Linked DNA regions of Homo sapiens: regions 1 and 2 are each linked to region 3. The links come from fine-mapping of genetic effects on gene expression. A gene starts in region 3. Each other region holds a variant in brackets. All regions are shown on one strand. Distances are from middle to middle. Region 1 holds the start of GPR27 (G protein-coupled receptor 27). Region 2 holds the start of PROK2 (prokineticin 2). Region 3 holds the start of EIF4E3 (eukaryotic translation initiation factor 4E family member 3).

Region 1 (8,181 bases), 30 kb before region 3:
GTGGCAGACAAAGAGGTTTCTCCTCCATCCTGTAGGCCTTGGGAAAACAGGGTGGACTCTATCTCATCAACCCAGTGATCCACCTGCAAAACAATAACCCTGAGTCAGCCCTAGGACTTGGCACCCTGTCACCTGTTAGGGAGCAGGGCATTTGAGAATGTAGAGGGCTGATGGTGAGAACAAAGACTTCGGAGAAATAATTTTGCCGTTTTATTTCTTTTTAAAAAAGAAAGAGAAAAAAGGGAGGGAGGGAAGGAAGGAAGAAAGAAGGAAGGAAGGGAAAAGAGAAAAGGAAGAGTAGAAACCAATATGGCATTTGGTAAGGCTGAGTAGTGGACACAGAGATTATCACTGTTGTTACTGATTTGTTACATGCTTCCCCACTTTGCTTAAAATATTTCATTTAAAAAATGAATGTGTCACACCTGTAATCTCAGCACTTTGGGAGGCCAAGGCTGGTAAACCACTTGAGGCCAACAGTTAGAGACCAGCCTGGCCGACATAGCGAAACCCTGTCTCTGCTAAAAATACAAAAATTAGTTGGGCCTGGTGGCAGGCGCCTGTAATCCCAGCTACTTGGGAGGCTGAGCTGTAATCCCAGCTACTTGAACCCAAAGGTGGAGGTTGCAGTGAGCTGAGATCACGCCACTGCAATCCAAGCTGGGCAACAGAGCGAGACTCTGTCTCAAAAGAAAAAAAAAGAATATGTCAGGTGTACTGTACATTTAAACAGACATATAGACATATGGTCCTTCTACAAAACTATTTGACAAGATATCAAAAGTCCTAAAAATGCTTCTTTTGACCCAGCAATTCCATGCTAGAACATACAGACAAAGATCTATGTACGGGAAGCCTACATTGCTTCAAGTATAGTGACAACTGCGTGGGAGGGTGGGGAAGTTGTGCTAAATTAACTTCCCAAATAAATAAAATGAGCAATTTTAATGAAATCTTCCCTAAATACATGGTGCCTGTGCTGGTACAATAAGTAGAGTACTGTGGACACAACTAACCTTTTTTTTTTTTTTATAATTTTTGATTAATGTAATTAACTATCAAAGTACATGTTAATAGATTCACCAATCCTAAAAGCTGTTGGGGTGGCCCTTTGCACCTCCCCACTTTCTGCTACATAGCTTGTTTCTCTGGCTCTTTTGGTTCTCGTTTCCTTTAGTTGGCTGTTATTTCTTGCTACTCTCACCTGCACACTCACTAGAAATCTTGCCTTCCCCCATCTAATCAGAACTTTAAAACATAAAAATAAAAAACCCAGGTAGCCAAGTTTGAACGCATCATGTCTGAAGTAAATCATGTCTGAACGAAGTCCTGGAGGTCTGTCTCCAACCACCTGAGGAACCTGTTGAAATGCTTTTCCCCAGGACCCAACTCAACATGTCCTCATAAGACTCTGGATCACACAGACACTTAATTTGTATGAATGTTAGAATTTGAGAACCTCTGGCTTATGAATTCTCATATGACAAAATATCCCTTGAATTCAAGGCTATGTCAGGCCAACACGTCACCTCTGGTGCAGCTGAGCTGCTGCCCAAAGCTGGAGTGGCTCAGGAGTCAGCCATGATGGGCTGGTTCCTGTGCCATGCCAGGTGGGAAAATCACAGAGACTTGGTGATCTCTGTTTTGGGGGCTTTTTTGAGACAGGGTCTCGAGAGCTCTGTCATCCAGGCTACAGTGCCATGGCACAGTCATGGCTCACTGCAGCCTTGACCTCATGGGCTTAAGCCATCCTCTCACCTCAGCCTCCCCAGTAGCTGTGACCACAGGTGCACATTACCACACCCAGCTAATTTTTTGATTTTTTGTAGAGACATGGTCTCGCTATGTTGCTTAGGCTGGCCTCAAACTCCTGGTCTCAAGCAATTCTCCTGCCTCGGCCTCCCAAAGTTCTGGGGTTACAGGCATGAGCCATCGTAGACTGGTTCGACCTCTATTTGGAACTGAGATCACTTGGGCAGGTGGAGGGTTAGATGAGGAGAGAGGTACTTCTGGGCTCCTCTATCTTGGGGTTGGCTGAGGTTTCCGATCAGTGGCCCTTGGATGATTGAGGCCAACCTGGATTCATGATGTGGGGAGAAATAGGGTAACTGTCTCATATTTTCCAAGTGTGAGACTGTCTTCACAGACTGATTAACTTCCACAACAAAATAAAATCATGCAGCCTATTTACCAGAGATCAATTAAATTGGCCACACTCTTTTTATAACTTATTCCCATTGGACTGAACATTTAATAGTTTATATTATACTCAGCTAAATTTCAATATAATCTACCACCCCCACTTTTACCTAGTACTTTTATCAAAATGATCGCTTGTACTTGAGTTTGATATGTTTACTTAAAAGCTTTTTTATGTCATTTAACGAATAGTCATTGAAATGTTGTCATCCAAATAAAAAAACAGTTTTAAAGCCGTATATATGTCTACTGCTTCTTCCCTTTAAAGAAAAGTTTCGCAGATTTTATCTTGCATTTTAAATTAAGCCTCCACTTTTCTTGGATATGCTGATGGTCAAACTATGAAACCTGTAACTGAAGAACACGTGCTAAAAGGATCATAGAGCATGTTATCCTTACATAACATACTTAGAGGCATGTAACATACTTCGACGCATGTATTATTACAGCCTCAAACACCACCACCACCACAACAAAACAACCACTCCAGAATGAAAATACTGGTATATTTGTATAATGCAAAGAGAAATACAGATATAAATCCTCAAAACGGAAGGTACATTAATAAAAATGTAGCATTATAAGCCAAAAATATTATATAGTACTTGCAGAATTTAGTCTTTCAGTTTAACATTATAATGTCTAACAAAGAAATATTATTTAAATTATAGTTCTCATTATTAATTTAAAACAACCATCAGTAGAACAGCACAGCTTAACCTAGCAAACATTTTAAGGAAATGCTTTGTTTCCTAGAAGGAGGATATCATTATATTCCATTCATTTATACCATAAACAACAGAAGAACAATTTTCAAAGTGGAAATTAGTTTCATAAGACAGAATAAAACTGGGCTTCTCAAAGCACAAGCCATTTCCATAAAATTAATTTTTTATTGGCAAAAAATACTTAAAACAATTTTGATGTAGTACTCTGCTTCTCAGAGCCCTCCCAATCCTCGAACCACAATCTATACACACGAACACATGCAATACTGTATTTTTCTCCACATCATTACTAACCAAAACACTTTACTCTTTTAAAACTTACAACTTGACAGAAATGTTTCCATTCAAGATTGCTAT[A/C]ATACAGAGAGCAGTTGTCACTGACGTGGTTTTTAGCAGCAGAAAGTAAACCGGGAACCAAATCTTACTTGTTACTTACTGCTTTAAAAAAATGACTGCCTTGCTACTGATCTCCATCTCTGCTCTTTAAGTTCAATATCAACACTGAGACTTTCAAAGAACCAGCGCAGCACAAGGACCCTGCAGCCGGCAATTCAGAGGGCATTTCGGACAACTTCCCCCCACCCCCCACTTTCTCCTGCTTCCAACAGAAGATCCTCAAGAAATCTAACTTGTGAAGAAGTCCCCCTAGGTTCCTCTACTTCACTGCAAAATGTAATGCCACTTGAGGTTGTCAAAAATAGCTTCTGTAGAAAACTGGCCATGGTCTTTAGGAAACGTTGCATGAAGAAAATTAGTACAGCCTTTATAGAAAAAGAAAAAAAGGAACCACACATGGAATAAAAGACGTCAGTACCGCTACAAAAAGACTGCAGGGCCTATTGTCAGGAAGAAAGTCGAGTTAGGAGGACGAATGTGCGGAGCTGGAGTGGGCTGAGCATCCTACTCCTCACCCACCCCACCCCCAAAGGAGTCAGTACAATCCAAGTGTCTGTCCACTTCGAGTCATTTTGAAGGCAGCTTAGAAAATTAAACAGGGGCCAGAAGGAAAAGATACAACGTCACCGTCCGAGCCAAAGGGAAAGGCTGGGTTGGGGGTCTATGTGGCGGGGCCTCCCTCATAAACCAATGCCTTTCAGGTCGCAGGGATGGGTCGCCTGGGTGGTCCGGGGGCTCTGGCAGCAGGGGAACTGGGCCCTGAAGCAGTCCCTCAGCTCCCTGTTGAAGAGGAAGCACACGACGGGGTTGATGCCGGCCTGCGCGAAGGTCAGCCACACGGAGGCCGTCAGGTAGGCCTGGGGGACGGCGCCGGGCCGCACCAGGACCCGCAGGTAGCTGGCCACGACGTAGGGCCCCCAGAGGAGCAGGAAGAGCAGCGTGACGGCGTAGAACATCTTGCACAGCCTCTTCTCCGTCTTGAATTCTTCCAGCACGAGGAGGCGGCGCGCGCCGCGGCCCGGCCCTGCGGGCCGGATGCCCACAAGCGCGGGCGGCGTGGGCCCGCGGCCGAAGCCCGCCGTCCAGTTGGCGGCCGCCTGGCCGGTGGCGCCCGGGCCGTGGAAGGTCCAGTCGTGGCTGACGGCGGGCACCAGGCGCGCGGGCCGCATCTTGCGGCGGTCGTGGATGAAGAAGAGCAGGCGGAGGTAGACGAGGTGCGTGGCGCCCACCACCACGGCCAGCAGCAGCAGGAAGCCCAGCGCGCCGGGGGCGCCGTCGGGCCGCTGCTCCAGGGCGCACGGCGCGTCCTCGTCGTCGCCACCGCCGTCCAGCACTGGCGGGAAGGCCGCGGCCAGCGCCAGCGCCCAGGCGGCGCACACCAGCATGGCGGCGCACGGCCAGCCGGCCAGGCGCTCTGCATAGAAGCGGTGGTGCGCGATGGCCAGGTAGCGGGTGACGCCCACGCCCAGCAGCAGGAAGGCGGCGTGGAAGCAGAAGAGCGCGGCCAGGAAGGCGAGCAGCTTGCAGCCCAGCGCGCCCGGCGGCGCCCCCGCCGCGGCCGCCGCACGCCGCGCCGCCAGCATGACGGCCGGGAGGCAGGCGAGCGCGCGCAGCCCGTCGGCCAGGCACAGGTCGAGCAGCAGGTAGTACGGGGCGCGGTGCAGGCTGCGCTCCCGCACGATCAGCAGCGCGAACAGCACGTTGCCCGCTAGGCTCACGCACAGCAGCAGGCTGAGCGTGGCCAGCTTGAGGCCCAGGGCGGCCGCCTCGCCGCCGCCGCTGCCACCCGGCTCGCTCGCGTTCGCCATCGCGGCCTCACCAGGCCGTGCGCTCCGCCCCGGGGCCGTCCCCTGCCTCGCCGCTCCCGCAGGCCGCCCGGCCCGAGCTCCGCCGCTCCGCCGGCCCTGGGCGAGCTCCCCGTCCTGCGGGGCTCAGCCCGCTCCCGGCCGGCCCCTCCTGGGCTCCCCGAGCCGCCGCTGTGCCGCCGCCGCCATCTCAGGAATGGTGCGCGCAGGAGGAGGCGGCCACTCCCTGCGCCCTAGGCGCCGCGGGCTTCACTGCGGACAGGGCCTCGCCACCGTCCGCAGCCCCCCGCATCCTCCTCCGTCTCCTCCTACTCCTCCGCTGCTGCCGCCGCGCCTCTTGGCTCTGCCCCCCGCCGGGCCCGCCGCCGCCGCTGCCGCCGCTGCCGCCGCCGCCGCCGCCGCCGCGGAGCCCCCTCCCCTCCGCCGGAGCGCGCAGCGCGGCCGCCGCCGCCAGCCCCGCCGAGGCATCCCGCACCGCCTGGGCCCGGCTGGGCTGGGGGCGCCTCCGCAGCAGCCGCGGGGTCGGGAGGCGGCCGGGAGGGAGGCAGGGCCCAGGACGCAAGGTGGCGACAAGTCGCGTTTGGCCCCAGGTAACGGGGGTCCGGCGGCGGCGCCCGCGCTGGGGTCACGGTGGCCGTGCGCGGGGGAGGTTGCCTGGGCTGGCAGGGTCGGGAGGCCTCAGAGGGGACAGGAATATCTGGAATGAGCCTTCTGCCCGAAAGCTGGGAGTAATTTACGATAGTAATAGTCATCGTAATCCTAAAACCGCTGATACTCAGGTGCGCACTGATGTGGGTGGCAGTGTGCTGGGGAGCTTGGCAAGCATTATCTCCCTCAACAGTAATCACGAAGTTGTTGCCATCCTTAATCCCACTTTATACCTCAGGAAGCAGAGGCTTGGAGGTCAAGGGAGTTGAGAGCCGGGAAGTAGCGGAGCTGGGATTCAAATTTCGCTTGGTCTGATTTCCAGTGCTGGACTCACAGCGACTCCGCAGCATCCCCTGCTCGCTAACTCATCCGTGATCCCGGTGAAGGACCTATATCAGGGAAAAGAAATGCAGCATTTCATCTTTAAGTGACTTGGAAGGTGAACCCTATGCCACCTTCCTCCCAGGATATCTATTTTCTGGGTAAGCCTGAAAGGGCAGCCCCTGTTATGATTCTCAGACACACCGCATTTGTCTCGCAGGACCTTGCATGTGCTGGTACCTCTGCCTGGACCAGCCCCACAACAGGCTCCCTCTCCGTAGGGCCTCCTTCTAACCCGTCTGTTTTACTCTGTATCCCTGCCCTCTAGTCATTTCCTTCTTAGCACTTATAATTTGTCATTATATACTTTCATTTCTTTTTAAAAATCATGCTCTTCTAACTAGGCTCTAAGCTCTTTGAAGGCAAGGGATCATGCCTGGTTTTTGGTACCACTGCATCCCCAGTGCTTAGCATGGTAAAGCCAGAATTAAGCAACGCATTGTTTCTCACCCACACTCATTTGTTTTTTCTTCTGTGCAGAAAATTATTTGTTGCCTACTGATTACATGCAAGGCAGGCACCTTGATGGGCATTTTCAGGATAGTGCAAGATCATAGAGGGCCTTAATGATCAGGCTAAGAAGTCGAAACTTTAGTCTGCAGGCAGTCAGGAGCCCTTGAAATCTTTTGAGAAGGGGAGCGACATGACTAGGTGTGCTCCAGGAACATTATTCTGGCAGCAGTGTTGAGGAGGGATGACAGAGCAGAGCCGGTAAACCTAGTCCAGAGCCTCAAACTTCACTATGTGCAGAAATCACTGGGGACCCTGTTAAAATGAAGATTCTGATTTAGTAGTTCTGGAATGGGGCCGGAGGTTCTGCATTTCTAACAAGCTCCGGGGTGAGACTAATGCTGTTGGTCTGCTGACCTTACTTTGAATAGTAAGGCCCTTGGGGACAGTTTGGATATTTTTTTAAAAATCTAAGTGATTTTTCAAGAAAATCAACTATTGAGCACCTGACTTGGGACTCCTAAGTGGCCAGCAGCAAGTGGCTGACCAGGCACATCTGTAAATGTATGTTGATAGAAAATAGATTTTGGAGGGTGTATGGGTTAGGAATTGCAGTTTGATACTAGTAGCAAAAAACGTGTACATGAGTTTATTTTCCTCGTGAAAGAAGAAGTTTGGAGGTCAGTAGTTGCTGACATTGATTTATTGGCTCAAGGACTGAATCTCTGAAAATCTTTTAGCCCTTCCCTCATGATCACAGTAGGCTGCCGACGCCCCAGCCATCATTTCTTCATTCCAGGCAGAAAGAAGAAAAGGGAAAAGAGCAGCAATATTCCAGCCATCTAAGTAGGAAGAGCTTTCTAGAAGCCCTACATTATAAACAAACACTTAAACATATCATTGGCTATCAATTGAGAGTGAGCACTTGAGCAAGGGAGGGTAGGAAATGGTTTCTTATTTCTTTGTTTAAAGTTAGACCCATGGCTGTAGAGAATTCGATCCTGCCTTGCTGTGGCCCTTAGCGCTTGGGCTGCCTCTGCCCAGAGGAGGGAATGCCTTCTTAATAACCCACACAAATTCACCAACTCTGGTTGCTTTATGGTAATACTAATGGCAGCCACCTTTTACTGAGCACTTGCCGTATGCCAAGCATTGTGCTAAATTCTCGACATGTGTTATTTAATGTAATCATTGTAATGGCCAGATGTGGTATGTGCTGTTACTGTCTTCATTTTGCAGAGGAGGCAGAAGGGTTAATTTGTTCACGCTTTCACCACTTACACTTACTTTACACTTACTTTCAAGTAAGTGTAAGAGCTGGAAGTCTGACTTTATTTATTTTGAAACAGGGTCTCACTCTGTCACCTAGGCTGGAGTCAGTGGCATCATCATGGCTCACTGCAGCCTCAACCTCCCAGGCTCAGGCCGTCCTCCTATCTCAGCCTCCTGAGTAGCTGGGACCACAGGCTTATACCACCATGCCCCGCTAATTTTTAAAAAATTATTTGTAGAGGCCGGATGCGGTGGCTCACACCTGTAATCCCAGCACTTTGGGAGGCCGAGGCGGGTGGATC
Region 2 (8,181 bases), 61 kb before region 3:
AGTGGGAGCATGCCCTGAGTGTTCTAGAAACCTCCAGGGGGGCAGTGTGGCAGGAGCAGAGCTGGCAGGAAGACAAGAGGTAGGAGTAGTAAACAAAGTCAAAGATCTGAAGGTCTCTGCGAGAGAAACGAGAAACTACTGCAGGGTTTAGAGCAAAGAGTCTAACTTACTTTAAAAAAAAATAGGTGTTGATGATAGAATGTAGAGGGCAAGGGTGAACCCGGGAGGCCAGTCTTGAGGCAATGACAGTGACAGTAATCCAGGCTGGAGGTGACAGGGGCTCAGAACAAGAAGGGTAGCATGACAGAGGGTTTATTATTAAAATATATTCTGTTTTATTTTATTTTGTATTTATTTATATATAAAATATTACATTATCACAAATATAATTATATTATAATAAATAATAATATAATATAATATAATATAATATAATAATATAAAGTAGATTTGCCTTCAAAAGGCAACAAGATTTTCAGACAGATGGGTCTTAGGTGTGAGAGAATGAGAAGGGTCAAAGATGACTCCAGGGTCATCTTTGGAAGGATAGAGTTGCCTTCAGTGAAAGGGGTTTGGGGGTTGCCAGAAGGTGTTGGGATGTGGACAGGTTGAGTCACACTGCAGGGAGGTCTTCCTTATGAAAGCTGCTCATGTCACACTTGCCCCATTCTTATGATTTTTCTCCTTCCCCGACCAACCATGAAGACCAAGATCTTTAGTGTGGCCTACATAAGACCCTGCAAAGGATCCCTGCCATCCCTCTGGCTCCGTATTTGTTCCAGACTTCGCTTTAGGCACATTCCTTGGGCCACATTAGCTACCCTTTTGTCTGCACTGTCTGGAATGCCCAGCCATCCTCCATGTCTGCTGTTTTATTCTTTTTTTTTTTTTTTTTTTTTTTTTTTTTTTTAAGACAGGGTCTCGCCATCACCCAGGCTGGAGTGCAGTGGTACAATAACAGCTCACTGAAGCCTTGACCTCCCAGGCTCAAGTGATCCTCCCACCTTGATTCTTCAGGTAGCTGGGATTACAGTCGCCCGTCACCACTCCCGGCTAATTTTTTAAATTTTTTTGTAGAGACAGGGTCTCCCTGTTTTGTCCAGGCTGGTCTGGAACTCTTGGGTTCAAGCGATCCTCCTCTCTCGGCGTTCCAAAGTGTTGGGATTACAGGCATGAGCCACTGCACCCAGCCCTGTTTCATTCTTCACCTCAGTTAAATTCTGCATAACCTTCAGCTCTCATCCCATATTCCAGAACTGTAAGGAAAGCTTCAGGTTTCCTCATATGCTCTCTCATAGTGACCCTAAATTTATCTTCTGTAATTATAAAGTTGTATGATTATTTGATTCATGTGCATCTTCCCATGAGATGGTAAGCTCCCAGGGGGCTGGGTTCATGTCTGTTTTGCTCACCCTCGTACCCCCAATGCTGCACACAATATCTGGAATATAGTAAGTCTTAGTTAATACCTGTTGAATGAATAAATTATGGTTTTCTACCCACCTAAAAGAAAATATTAGCTTACACATTTACTCACTTTCAGAGTCTTTGTATAATTCTGGTATAAAGAATGCTGTACTAGAAAAAATACAAAGGAAATTACACATTATTATTTATAATAGCAATTACTAATATAATTCAAAGTTCATTATGCTCATTAAGGAGTCCAAGCCATGAATGATTCATTTCCTGTAGAATATAGCACTGCTCACCTGATACCTTGTTGTCTTCAGAAACCAGTGACAGACTTGCACTGTCTGTCCCCTTGAAGACAGATTGTCATGTGGCTTGTTTTGGTCACTAAAAAGTGAGCAAAAGTGACAGGCATGAATTCCAGGCAGAGAAAGCTGGTGTACAACCCTCTGGCTGCACCCAACTATGTTAGTTTCCTGTGTCTGCCATAATGAAATCACCACAACTGGGTGGCTTAAAACAATAGAAACTTATTCTTTCGTGGTTCTGGAGGCTAAAAGTCCAAAACCAAGGGGCTGACAAGGCCGTGCTCCCTGTGAAGGATCTGGGGAAGAATCCTTCCTTGCTCTTTCAGATCCTGATGGCTGCTGGCAATCCTTGGTGTTCCTTGCCTTGTAGAAGCATTGCTCCAATCTCTGCCCCCATCTTCACTTGATGTTCTCCCGTGTGTGTGGGGGGGGTGGGGTGGGGGGAGTCTAGCCTGTGTCTCTGTATCCAGCTCTCCCTCCCATTTCTCTTATGAAGACACCAGCCATTGAATTTAGAACCCACCCTAATATAGCATGACCTCATCTTAAGTTGATTACGTCTGCAAAAACCCTATTTCCAAATAAGGTCACGTCCACAGGTACCAGGGCTTAGGCCTTGAAAATAACTTGCTAGGGGTCACAGTATAGGCCACTACACTGGCAATCATGAAGCACATGTTGAAATGGAGCCTTATCAGTCAGCCTGAGTCCCAAATTGACTGCCGTGAGACAGGCCTGTGTCTCCCAGCTCACTTCATTTCAGTCACGTGGCCCCCAAGTAAAGAGACAGGCTGAATCATCTGCACCAGGTAAAGCTTCCATCTCTCTTGCTTTTTGGTGACTACCTTTAACGGATTCATATACATGACATGAGTCTGTACTGTATATGATCTTCTCGTAACTGTCTCTGGACTGTCCTTCATGGGACATATTCCTGTTGCTGGTCACTTACTGAATGCCTGCCATATGCCTATTATCGTGCTGTGTGCCAAGAGGGATGCATAGAAAATTAGACACAAGGATCCTAATCATGAAAAGTGTACAATCTAATATAGTGGGCAGGACAGAAAAGACTTATATCAGCATTGGCTGAAATTGTCAGGGGAGACCAAATAATAAGGCTTAATAAGAGGTAACCCTAACAGAGCTCCCAGTCTGTTCCAGGCACTGTGATAAGCATTTTGCAGGTATTATTAAATTCCATAGGGGTTGTACCCCATGAGGTTGGTATTTTATAACCATTTTACAAGACCGGAAACAGAGGCTTCAAAAGGTTGTGTAACTTGCCCAGTGGTCACACAGGATTCCAATCCTGATCAGCCTGTCTCACAAACATTGGGTTCTATAGACGCTCCTAGATTGCATTTTCGTTTAAGCTGAGCCTTGATGGTCTGCTGGAATATGGTAGGCTACACTTTACACACACAAGGCTCATTTCACCTAATACAGTTATGCCTGGGCAGAAGTGATCATGTGGCAATATCAACAGGTTACAGTAATAGAAAAGAATCAATAAACTACTGTTTCATTTCTATGTCATTGTTGCTAAGTTGTCCCAACTACCTTTTTTAATGGACTAATCCAAACTCTTTTTTTTTTTCATTTTTCCCTTTATAACAATTGAAGTCAGACTTCATTTTTCAAACTTGGCCTCAGATACAAAGATGACATATCAAGAGCCTTCATTTCTCTCCTAAAGCATTAAAGCAATTAAAATTTCCAAA[A/G]GAACATGAAACTAAACAACCCTATTTTTAAGTGTTTCCAAACTTATTTCTTTTTTTTAAACTTGTTTCAAAACAGCCTTATGAGGACTGTTTTCCAAACAGCTGTGTAAGAAGCCAGCCACTTTTGAAATCTGATTTTTCCTGTGTAGACATATCATATTTTCTATGCTTGAAGAAGCAGGGAATACCCAAGCTGGCATTCAATAGTAGCGAATATGAAATAGACCATTAAAAGAAAGTCATAGGAATGTTAAAATCCATGTTGACTGGTTTTTACATTTACCCGGCAGCATTCCCGAGCTAGCGTTGGCATGGAGACTGGAAAAGGAAACTTTCCACAAGTCTGTCACTTGCTACTGTTTCTACTTACTCCACTGTGAGTCCAATTTTAACATTTTTTTAAGTTGAAAAAAGGGTTTGACTCCTTTTGTGTTTTCTGTTCAAGGCGTTTTTTAAACATGAGAACACGTGTGAAAAAGGTTTTTAAAAATCAGCCAAAGATTGGGGTTTCCAAATATTCAGCTGTTTAACATTCAGATAATTGCCTGCCTTCCCCCCGCTATCCCCCACATTTCGTCTGAATGCTTTGGCACGGGGGAGCCCCACAGTCTGAAAGTAACTCTGTCCCAACTCTCCTTACTGCATTTATTAAAGAGGCTGAAAGACGCATCTGCTTTTCAATAGTTTGCGGTTCTTAAGAGACCAGGAAAGCCAGAGGTTCTGACTATTCAGGAAGAAAGTTGGGTTTCCCAAAACGGGCAAGCAAGTTCGGTGTGGTCACATCTAGGTATTCTTGACGTCATTTTTGTTGAGGGAAACAGGCTGCAGTTTTTGGAGCCAGGCTAGGATGAGAGATGGAGGGCAAATCTGTCACTTATTCTTTCCTGGTGTGCCTGGAACCCACTAGACACTCAATTCATGTTTACGTGAATGAAGGAATCACAATAACGCCCTATCGCATCTGTAAAACCGAAGGGTGATTTTCCTGGGCTGGAAAGTTTAAGAAAGAAGAGAGAGCTGCGTACCTAGGGCTTAAGGGGCCTCAGGCTGGCACTCGAAACCAGGCGTTCTCATTTCCCTTTGGCATCACCCTGAACGGCTGTGCCTGGAGCTGGCGCGGGGCTGAAGAGGGGAGGAAATACATGTGAGGAAAATCAGAGGAGAGGGTCGGGAACAGATGTGGGCATAAAGGGAAGGCCTCTGACTTGAAATAAACAAATAGGAGTCCCGCAGCTGGAAGGACAAATCCTTTCACGTCGCGGGTGATGTGGGATTGGGGCGATTTTGCTCTCCCTTTGTTCTTTCCCCTGCCTTCCACGTTTCCAGGGTATTTGATTGATGTCTGTCTTCTCTGTTAAGTTATTCCACCGTGAGGAGAGAGCCGGTGGCAGTACCTGGCACGCAGCGGGCGCCCAGTATAGACCTGCTGAACAAACGAATGGATTCAGGGGCTGCTGTGTCCCCCTCACCCACCCCCCGCCCCCTATGTGTCCACAGCGCCCCGCACGTAGTAGGCGACCCCTAAACATCTGTACAGCAAATGATTTGCAAGTTTTCGGCGCTGAGCACGTGGAGCTTTGGAAACCAGGACAGCAAATGAGTGTCTCGGAGACCACAAAAGCGGTTCCGGCGCGTGCGAAAGGCGGTGGCTGGGCGACGGCGGAGGGAACGGCGCAGAGCGGGGCGCCCCGCCGGGAGCGCTGCCTGCGTGGCGCCCGAGGCGGGGGCGCGGGGGGCCGCGCATAGCACGTGCTCGTCTGGGAGCCGGCCGGGCCGAGGCGGGCGCGCGTGTGCGCGTGGGGCGTGGGGTGTGTGCCCGCGCCGTGCCCCCCGCGTGTGCTGCCGGGCGGGCGCCGGCGTGAGTCACGGCGGGGCTAGCCTTTATAACGGCCCGGAGGCTCGCGGGAGCCGCCGCGCCCGTCCGCCCGCCGCTCCGCGCTCCACCCAGCGCACCCGGGCCCCGCGCCCCCAACTGCCTCCGGCGGCCGCCCAGTCCCGAGGGCGCCATGAGGAGCCTGTGCTGCGCCCCACTCCTGCTCCTCTTGCTGCTGCCGCCGCTGCTGCTCACGCCCCGCGCTGGGGACGCCGCCGTGATCACCGGGGTAAGCGGCCCGGGCGCACCTGTCTGCCCCTGATGCGCGCCTGGGATGTGCCCAGGGGGCTTGGGACGGGGACCCTGAAGGGCAGGCTAGAGGCAAAGGGAGGGTCGCCCTGGGCGGGGACACCTGCCCCTGTCGCCCCTTGGTGCACTTGGGAAAATACCCAGATCCAAAAGCAGCAGACGGCTGGGGACACTGGGCGCGTCCTGGAAGAAACAGTGACAAGGATGTCGCCCACCACCTTTATTACCACCTTCTCCCGCTTACTTCTCCCTCATCACCCACGGCCTCACTCCTCGCATTTTTCTTCTGTTAGGCTGAAAGAAGTTTCTCTCTGAGTCTTCTCAAGTACTTTTGGAGGCTCTCCAACCTCGAACCTTAAAATTTGACGGCCCCTTCCTGAAATGCAAAGGACCAAGACGAATTCCCCAAGTGCCCAGAGTCTTAATCCTACAGTCAAAGAGTTTGCTCCCCGATGCGTCCTCCGCAGAAACCCTTTGAAATCGCTTGGTCCAGGGCCATGTGAGCGCTTTGAAAAGCAATTGTGGGAGCTTCCTTCTGGGTTCCGGGGCTTTCCCCCGCGCTCAGGGTCTTGAGGTATCCCCATAAAAGTTTTAAATTTCTAATTCCTGGCAAAGCACCTCCAGTGCTCCAGCATAATGATGGAGTAGGTTGCTGTGTAGATGTTTAAACTTAGAGACGATGTTTTCATCTTTTCTGTAAGTAGGAACTAGTTCAGTTCTCTCCCACTCTCAACAATTTTGTGTGGATCTGAAAAAATTGGGTTTGCAGTACAATACTAAATAGTCTAGTTTACATTAACAAGGCAAAACTGCTATCATTTCCTGGTTGTTCAACTTCTTTACTGTTTTTTAAGTGAGGAATTATTTCACACCTTCATTAAATTACTTCAAATATTTAAGTGCACATAATGGGATTTAAATAAAACGTCTATGTTTGAAATGTTGATACATAGATAATATCATTTGACTTTAAAGGAAGTATCTTTGTCTTGAAAAAATCAAGCTCTATTTTCTCTATATTAGTTATTAGGTTTATAGAATTTTGAAAGTCCTTTTGCTATGACAGCATTTGTATATATCCAACAGATATTTAACTGTAAGCTCTGTGATATTTATTAGAAAAGAGATTTTTTCAAAAAATTACTTGCATAGCTTTGCCAGTCCATGTGGTTGAGAAAAACTTTTTGCAGGTCTTTCTAATACATGAGAATTGAAACATGATTGGATTTTTTTCTCCCTCTTCTCCTGCTGGCTCATTTAAAGTTTCTCCTAATCCTCTGAGCCCAAGATCCCTTTGCAATATAAGTATCTTTTTGTTCCATTCACAGGACAACACTATCTGAATAGATTTGCAATGGGTTAAGGATGAAGGGCATTAGGAAACAGCTGTCTAATTAAAAATATATAAACCTATGCAACTCTTTGTAAATTTTCCAAGAACTGAAGCTTTTGTTACAAAATAAAATTTTATCACATTGGCTGTCTATCTGTTAGAGAGGCTTAGACTGGGCTTATTATATAGTTATGTGTGCTGTTTTTGTTGTTGTTATTTTAACTCAGTGTTACAAAAAGAGAATTTTAAAAATGTCTCTAAAGCAACAGGGCAATAAAATGTAGTTATGTCTCCATGACAGGAACCATCTGGATTCAAATGAAAAACTCAGTAACTTATCAAGATACATTGTGTATAGCATGTTAAACATCCAGGTGATTGAATTTTAAAAGATTTTGGCTGGATTTTTGATTGGTTCATAAAAAAAAGCTCATGGGGCCTCAAAATTCGAGGTATTGAGCATCTGTTGAAATAAAATGCTGGCTAAAACTTTCACCTGACATCCACAGTTTTTTGGGTAGTGTATGTAGGTATTTTGAAATTGATTTATATGCCCACATAGATTTGTTAAAACTATATTGTAAAAGATCATTGACTAGACATCTTATTTATGGGATGTAATGGCTACATATACATGATTTCTGGCATGCAGATAAAAATTGGAAAATTGAAACATTTACATATTGTCCTATAAAATCCAAACACCTCAAGGTGAAATTTTTAGCTTTTATCCAGATACTTTGTTTAAATAGACTGAGAAATAAATTCTAATGAGGGAAGTAAATGAACTTTAAAGCAAAATAGTTGGTTACTTTTAATGAGAAATAATGTTAAGAATGTACCCATATTTTTATATCTTGAGAAGTTATGACTGTCCTCAAAACTAAGAATTTTGAAGGACTGTTTTAGTTGTTTCCACTAATTGTACATTTAAATTTGTGCCTAGATGATAGAGGTTTTAGTTTCTTACATATATAGTACAGGATGTTTTTATCTTATCACTACCAAAACAGATTACTGCCCACGGTTCAAACAAAGCATTCTATTTTTTGTTGGTTCTAGGAAAGAATAATAGTTCTTCAGATCCATTTTCATGCAAATAGATTTAGATTTTATTATTTATTTCTATTTACTAGAGTATGGAAATTCCTCCATAGTTGATTGTTTCATTGTATGTATTTACAACTTTTATATTGAAAGCAGGTGACTTGAGTAATTACTATTGACAATTGCACCTGTTACTTGCATTTCTTAATTTGATGGATCTTACAGGATTGTTAG
Region 3 (8,181 bases):
GTGGAAGGCTCCCTTCCCAAAGTGTTGAGACAGAGGCCATCAATGGAGGGAATGTCACTAGCTAACTCTGTGGCTGTGTGACTTCCAGTGTCCCTGAACCTCAGGTTCCTCATTGGGTAAAGGAGGAGACTGAGTTAGGACCCCTGCCTTCCCTTCCAACGTCATCATTCTGCTGTTCCTGTGACTCCCAGGGAGCAGATGTGAGTAGAAGAGAGAGGACCACTTGTTGCTAGGCAACCAGCACCCACCTCACCCATGTTGCCATGGTGATGATGAAAGTTGGGCTGATGGGATTACCAGCTCCTGCTAATTGCATATGAGTGCTCAGGTTTCTGTCTCTTTCTTGCCTGCTTGCTCGCTCTGACTTTCTCATTCTTCTAGGAACTGTAGAGCGATTTCCCCCTCTCCTCCATCTGCAGCCTCCCTGAGGCAGCCCTAGTGCAATGGAAAGCAACTGGGAATGGAGCCTGGCTGTGTGTCTGAATAGCTGTGTGACCTTGGGCAGGTTACCCAGCTTCTCTGGGCCTTTCTTTTCTCATTTGGAAAATGAAGGTGTTGGAAAAGTGATCCCTGTCTAAGGTTCTTCCCGGCTCTCAAATCCTTTGATGCCTAGGGAGCTTGTCAGGGGAGCAGACCACACTGTTACTAGGCAACCAGCAGGCACCCTGCCCAAGTTGCCTTGGTGACTGGATGCTGGAGGGGAGGGGAGTAGCTGCTGCAGCTAATTGCTTAATTATTTATGAGTGCCTCAAGTCCTTCTTGTTGTTTTTGTTGCTAGGGGCTGTGGGGTCACCTTCTCTTCCTCTCTTCTGCCACCCCAAGTCGTCTGTGTTGCGTGTCATGCAGTGGGACAGCACGTTGGTCCGGACCTCAAGCTACCCACGTTCTAGTCCCGCCTCTGTCATTTCCTAGAGCTGTGGCCTCGGGTAAGTCACCTCACCTCTCTGGGCCTCAGTTTCCTCATTTGTAAAGTGATGGGTTTGCTTAGATGATCGCTGAATCCCCTTTCTACCTTGAAATTCTAGTTCCTGCCATCCAGTTCCCAGATGAGGGAAATTTCCCCAATTTATTATCTTCTAAGAATGATTCTGAAGAGCAATAAAAATAATTAAGTCTCTTACATATTTCAAACAGGAAGGGAATGAAAGTTGTGACCATTGTTCCCTCCTTAGCCATTTTGTATAATCTCTTTTATTAATCTTAAGGTCATTTAAATTTTATCTATTCATATATACCACCTACTTCCAAAATAAATTTGAGGGGTTCAGTGTAAGGTGCATATATGCTATTAGGTCTTTAAAATAGAAATAGGAATAAATATAAAAATAGTGATGCTTCTTCATTGGCTAATATTGGTGCTGTGATTGAGCACCAAATGTAATTATGAGCAGCCTGGAAGCCAAAGCAAAAAGAGAGAAAGGTATATAATTGCTATTCAGTAAAGAAAAACTGCCAGACTGTTCCTAGTTCTAAATTCTGGAGGGAATTTTTTCATGTGGTACACAATCCTTTTACAGAAACTGCAGATAAAAATTCTTGACTAGCCCTTTTTTGCTGAGGATATTGTTAAAGGACATAAGGAAGGAGCTAAACTTGACAGTTTGACTAGCTTTAATCATTAGAAAGCAAAACTTCCTTTCTACCCATGCCTTGGAATTTTATACAGATATGTGTCACTTCGTAAATATAAATTTTCAGAATCAACCATTATTTATATATCAGCTATATATAAATTCATGTAACCACTTTGCAAAGCAATTTGGCAATATGTATCAAATTTTTAAATGCAGCCAACAATTCTTCTCCAAACTTATTCTGAGATTAGCTTGTGTAGATGAAGAAAGCCATAAATATAAAAATACTTATGGTAGCATTATTTATATAAGAAAATGTCTAGAAACCACATAAATGTTGGAGGCTAGTGAATTAAATTATATTACCTCTTTACAATGAATTACTTTGCAGCCCTTAAGATAAAGTAGATCTATATGTTTTGATATGGAAAAATCTTCAAGGATATAATGTTAAGTGAAATAAGAAGGTACAGCATTGGTATTAAATGCTTCCATTTTGGTTATAAAAAAGATATAGATTTATAACTTATGAATCTAGATATATGCTTGCATGTGCATACTTGCATTTTTCTGGAAGGAAACTGTTGCCAGTGGTTTCCTCTGGGAATGAAGATTGATAGTCTTGGGAGGGAGGGAGACCTACTATTCACAGCTTGTTTTTACGTTGTGGACTTGTTAGTGTTCTGTGTAGAGAGGTAGGAGAGTCTGGCAGTTGAAAGTCTAGACTCTGGAGTCTGAATACCTATGTTCAAATCCCAGCTGTCCCACTTACTAGCTCTGTGACCTTGGGGTTATCTTAATCTTATCTCTGTTCCTCATCTGTAAAATGGGTTAATAGTATCTTCCTCATTGGCTTATTGTAAGGATTAAATGAGTTATTACGGGTAAAGTGCTCAGAGCAGTTTAAACAATGCCATATACCACGCTTCTTGGAAAAATGAAAGGAGATATTAAGCAACAAGATAAATGCATCTAACCAAAAGCACCCTCCCCTGTTTTAGTGTTGGACAGATTTTATAAAATCTGTCATTGCTTCCAGCATTGTATGTTGTATAGAAGTTAAGTTTAAAGCAGCGGTCTTGTTTTTATTATTGTCACTTTATGTGACCTTGATTACCTTTTAGGGAGGGCATCTACTCTGGGATTCATGACAGTCTGCTATGATGCTGTTGATGCCCCTGAACTCATCTTGTTTTGTAGCTCTTCCATCCCAGCGAATGCTCAAGGCATGAACAGAACACATGCTAGGCCAGGTAGAAGGTCAATGAGGAGATGGCATCCCACGCCCTTCACTGTTCAAAGCCAGAGAGGAACTATCTAGAAATTCAAGTGTAAAGAGGATGTCCATGCTGGTTGTGACATGTGTGTTCACAGGCCTCATGCCTTTGCTTTTCTTTTGAAAAAGAAAGTGACAGAGACCTGGGGAGATGCTGTGTTAGGAGGGCCCCTCCTACTTTGGGCTCAGGAATCTCACCGCCTAAGGGACTTCCTGGGTGCTCAGAGGTACAGGAAGCAGAGCGCTCTGTGTTCACAGGTGCCCGCTTTCCTCCTCCCGACTCGCCGGTGCTTTAGGGCAGATCTGGATACTTTGGCTGATTTTGGGAAATGTTCTCTGAAGTTAGCCACACGTTAAGCCAGGCTTGAGGCCTTCACTGTGGTCACATGGTAGCTCCAGAGGTTGGGATGGGGGCTCTGGCCCCTTCAAATCAGCGGAGTTAGGAAGTATGCTCTCACCAAGAGGAATGCAAAGCCCACCTGCTCCAACCTCATGCCCCAGTCGGTGGTTCTCTTGTTCGTTCTTCTTTCTCGCCCTTTGTTCTGTACTCGCGGGCACTGGAGTCTCTTTATCCATTTGGCCATCGGTTCCCCTCTCCATTTATCTGTCACACCCAACTGTGCTTCCATCTGCCCTCCATCCCTCCTTCTCTCCTCCAGCCATCTGCCAGCCTTCACTCCATCCTTCTGACTGCTGGTATGTCTGTCCATCCCTCCTTCCCTCGCACCACGTGGGTCTGGGGCTCCATCCCCTGTCCCATCCATCCCTCCATCTGTCCCTAGCCTGCCGCTCCATCCCGCTGCCCTTTTGCATGGCTGCAGAGCCAGCCCGCAGACCGTTCCCCGGTCCCTCTCACCCCCGTGGGCCCTCTAGCCCGTCCCCGGCCGCCACTCCAGGCCAGGCCGTCAGTCTCCCACGCTGGGCCCGCGCCTGAGCGGGATCGGCCCCCCATCCCTCCGTGGGTCTGTCTTTGTTCGGCGGCCCCGGCCCGGCCGTGCCTCCCACGGCCCCTCCGCGCGGCTCCCAGGCCCTGAAGGCGGCGGGCGGCGGGCGGCGGGCGGCGGGCGGCTAGCCCGGGGCGGGGCGGGGCGCGCGGGGCGGGGCGGGGCGGGGGCCGGGGGTGACTCAGCCGCGCTCGCCCCGCGGTCCGCGCGTCCGCCGGCCTTGCAGGCGGGGCGGAGAAAATGGCGCTGCCCCCGGCCGCCGCGCCCCCCGCCGGGGCCCGGGAGCCGCCGGGGTCCCGCGCCGCCGCCGCTGCCGCCGCCCCCGAGCCGCCGCTCGGCCTGCAGCAGCTGTCGGCGCTGCAGCCTGAGCCGGGCGGGGTCCCGCTGCACTCGTCCTGGACCTTCTGGCTCGACAGGTGAGGGGGCGCGGGGCCCGCCGCGCACGGCCCCGACCCGGGTCCTGCCGCCACCGCCGCTTTGTCTCGGCGCGGCCCCTCGCCCCGGCCCCGCTCCGCTGTGGCACAGACCTCGGCCCCTCCGCGCGTCCGCCTGCGCACCCCGGGACTCGCCCCGCCGGGTCGGAAGCCAGCTTCGGGCCGCGCCGGGCGGCTGTTCGGCGTCCTCGCCTCCGGGCCGGGGGAGGACAGCGCAGCCCGAAAAGTTTCGGCAACACTTTCTACCCCTTGTTCCCTTCCGATCGGAACGCGGCGTGCTGGCAGGGCCGTGGGAGAGGGTAGGCGAGCTGGGGGTGGCCGCGTCCCTGCTGCAGGGAGAGGGCTGTCCTGCTTACCCCGCGGGGCGCCTGGGAGCTCAGGACACGACCTCAGCTGTGACAGCGCTCGGAAAAGTTGCCCATCCCTTGGGAGGTGTGCGGTGGTGCAATGATTATTGCACGGCGGGCGCTCCCACCCCGTGTCCGGCCGCTGCTGCCGTGGACTCCTCTTCCAGTTCTTCCTCATCCACTGGGCAGGTATTTCCTGAACACCTACAGTGGAGCCACACACCTGCTATGCGCTGGAGATTCAATAATGAGCAGCAGCTGACCTTGTCAGGAAGGGGGTGAATTATGGCTTTCTCAAGGGACAACCCAGGTGCCATCTTTTCAGAAAGACCCCCTGACTACCGTATCTAAAATAGAAACCTTGCTCCCTCGTTTTGTATTCTCCTGCCCTGCCTTCTTTTTCTTCCTAATGCTTAATGCAGCTGGATTTTATTATATATGAATTTGTTTACTTTCAGTCTGTCTCCCCAGCTCCTCAACACCTCCCCTCAGTTAAGGATAAAAGAGCAGTGGATTTTTGTTTTTGGACATTTTGGACCTAGAACTGTGCCTGGTCCCTAGTAAGAACACCAGAAATTGTTATGAATGAATAGATGGATGAATGCAAAGCCCCTTCTTAGTGTCTGCCCTGCAGTGGGTGCCCAATGATGACACCTCAAGGTTGTCCCAAGAGCATTTGGAAATTTTGATGAAACCGTGTCTATTCTGGCTAAGTGTTAGGAAGAAATGTGTGACAGTGTTCTGAGAAGTTTGCTTGGTACACACAAATCTGGTTTTAAAAGGCTTTGCATAAAATGACTGCAAGATTTTGTTTTAAAAAAGTGATATTCATTTTTTTTTTGGTTAAGACAAGCTCATTTCTTTTTTCCTTTTGGGTTCTTATAGCACCCGTCTATAAGAATTGTCACTTGCTGCCATTTTCTTTGCCGGAGACCCAAAAAAGTTGGGGGTGGGGGAGATGGAGTGAGTTTCGTTCTTTCAAAACATTTTCACTTTCATTATGGGATGCTAAGAGAGCATTATACTGTCATAACAAGCGTGCTTTTGGCAGACCTTAGCAGAATGAAATCGTGTCTGTTTTCATAGGTGTGCTGCAACTGTGCTATTGTTACCTGGTATCTGTTTTCAAGGTGTTAAACCTGGACCTGTGGTCTAAATTGTGAATACTGCTGACTGGTGGAAACAGTATCAAGAGAGTTTCTTTTTAAACAGGTCTAAAATTAGTTTACATGTAGGAACAACACTTTTAAGGACTGGTCTAAAATGTCAATACTACAGATAACACAATCTTTTAAGACTAGTAGCTTAAGATTATAGTAACTTTAATGAAGACAAAAACTATATCTATACTATTGATTTACACATTTTTGTTCTCTAAAGGTCGATCATCAAATGAAATACATTATTGCCACAGTGTCCAGATCTTTAATAGAAATGGCTGTATTAATTTAGAAATTATAATGAGTTCCAATATTGTACATATGAATTCATTTTGCCCGATCAAACAACTCATAATTTTTATTGAACTTTTTCTCCTTCTGTGGGAATCCATTACCTTTATATAGGGTGCCCCTCTCCCCCTTGAGGTTATGAACACATTATGATCTAGAAGTTCATTAGTAACTTTTCTCCCCAGGTAAACAACATTCTAGAGACTGGTGAGGTTCTCAGGAGAGCCCTCCAAGGCAGCCTTACCTGCAGCATAGCCAATGTCTGCCTGGCAAGATGACATCGGTTTTTGAGTTCCATAGCATGCAAAGGCCTCTTGCTACTTAAAACTCCCCTTTGGCATCCTACCTCCCGGCCTGTCCTACTTTCCAGCCTACTGTGTGCTGATGAGCAAGCCATCTAGCTGCCCCAAGCCTCACTTTCATTGTAAAATGGGATAGTCATAGGCTATGTCTCACAGGGCAGTTCTGAGGATTAAATGAGAGACATGATGTACAACACCTAACAGGTGCCAGCTGGTAGAAGGAGCTTCCTAAGCATAAACTACTAACACTGTCATTACCATGCTCCCCAGCTACCAACCCCTCCCCATACCCACACCCCAACAAACAGTCTCTGGAGCAGCTTGTCTGAATTCTGTGTTGGGAAGCCAGAAACCTAAATTCATTCCCCTCACTGGATGAGTTGGAGAACTCCTCTGTAAAGTTATTAGTATTTTTAATAGTCAACTCCAATAAGTCCTTATTTGGTTAAAAAATTAGACTGTATGGTTAAGGATTTCGGCATTTGAGGAAGGTAATTTTAGATTGGGGGTACAGGCTGAAGAGTTTTTCTCCCCTTTTCTGGACATTTAAAACTATCCTGTCTTGATTCTTGGAAGCCACTCTGGGTTATGTGTCTCTAACTGCTTCCTTTTGATCTTATGGTGACCCGCTCGCCTCTGAGTTTTTTCCCACAAGACTCAGGCCTCAGGCCTCTTCTTTGTGCCATTTACACCAGGGATCTCATCCAGTCACAGTGCTTTCAGGTCCACCTGAATTCTGGTGACTCTCAAAACCTTACACTCTTAGATCCAGTGCTCCTTCCCCTTTGTCTCCATGGATGTCCAATGTAATACACAACCAGACTCAACATATACTGAACTACCTCCTCAACTGCCTTCCCAAACTTGTTTCCTTCTATCTGTATCTCAGATAAGAGCAGTTAAGAGCAAGTCTATCCTTCCAGTTGCCCAGCCCAGAAATCTTAGAGTCATCTGTAACCACCTCCCACCCCCGCCCCCCCGAGGAAAAGCCAAAGGGCTTACAGGAACCATAAAGCTTTGCAGCTCTTCCTGCCCCACCCAGGACCCTTTTCTCCCTTGTCACTCTCCCTTCTGCCATGCCCTTCTTTCTGCTCATCGGTCCCCTTGCTCTTTCGCCTTCATCCCAAGCAGGGACCTTAGCCACTGACACCCCCTACTGCTTGGAGTGCTCTCACCTCCATCAGTGCTTGCCCTGCTCTTTCCTGTCCTTCAAGCCTCTGCTCACATGTCACCTTCTCAGACCTTCCATATTAGTCTGTTCTCACACTGCTACGAAGAATTACCCAAGACTGGGTAACTTATAAAGGAAAGAGGTTTGACTCACAGTTCCACGTTGCTGTGGAGGCCTCAGGAAACTTACAATCATGGTAGAAGCCAAAGGAGAAGCAGGCACCTTCTTCACAGGGCAGCAGTACCAAGTGAGTGCAAGCAGGGTAAATGCCAGACACTTATAAAATCATCAGATCTCATGAGACTCACTCACTATTACGAAAACAGCATGGGGGAAGCCACCCCCATGATCCGGTTACCTTCACCTGGTCCTGCCCTTGACATATATGGGGATTATGGAGATCACAATTCAAGATGAGATTTTGGGTGGAGACACAGCCAAACCATCTTATGTTGCCTGACCACTGTTATGAAATGGCGCAAGCATCCTGACACACACACCCCGAGCCCCTGACCCTGTTTTATTTTCTCCATAGCATTACCACCATTGGCTTGTCTTCTCCCACTAGGATGTAAACCTCATGAGGGCAGAGTTCTCGTCCCGGATGCCTTGTCCTTAGCTCCTGGATTGGAGCCTAGCACAAGTCAGTCCGCACTGAATACCCTGAACAGGGTGTTGTTGA

The links. PIP is the estimated chance that this variant, and not a neighbour inherited with it, causes the effect.
Region 1: its variant is fine-mapped to the expression of EIF4E3 in whole blood (INTERVAL, PIP above 0.99).
Region 2: its variant is fine-mapped to the expression of EIF4E3 in whole blood (INTERVAL, PIP above 0.99).

What each region holds. Positions count from the first base shown.
Region 1 is chr3:71,751,000-71,759,180 of GRCh38, reverse strand. It overlaps GPR27 (G protein-coupled receptor 27), which reads right to left and starts at 5,326. Exons shown (of 1, transcript NM_018971.3): 1 at 2,685-5,326. The coding sequence starts at 5,131. The coding sequence ends at 4,004. It also overlaps a transcript of EIF4E3 not described here. The variant A/C (reference allele first, on the strand shown) is at 3,285.
Region 2 is chr3:71,782,323-71,790,503 of GRCh38, reverse strand. PROK2 (prokineticin 2) reads left to right here and starts at 5,356. Exons shown (of 4, transcript NM_001126128.2): 1 at 5,356-5,547. The coding sequence starts at 5,452. LOC105377156 (a long non-coding RNA gene) reads right to left here and starts at 5,114. Exons shown (of 4, transcript NR_199161.1): 1 at 4,981-5,114; 2 at 4,757-4,868; 3 at 4,471-4,567; 4 at 4,077-4,287. The variant A/G (reference allele first, on the strand shown) is at 3,446.
Region 3 is chr3:71,721,221-71,729,401 of GRCh38, reverse strand. EIF4E3 (eukaryotic translation initiation factor 4E family member 3) reads left to right here and starts at 4,000. Exons shown (of 7, transcript NM_001134651.2): 1 at 4,000-4,210. The coding sequence starts at 4,035. RefSeq lists silencers at 4,276-4,345, 4,476-4,595.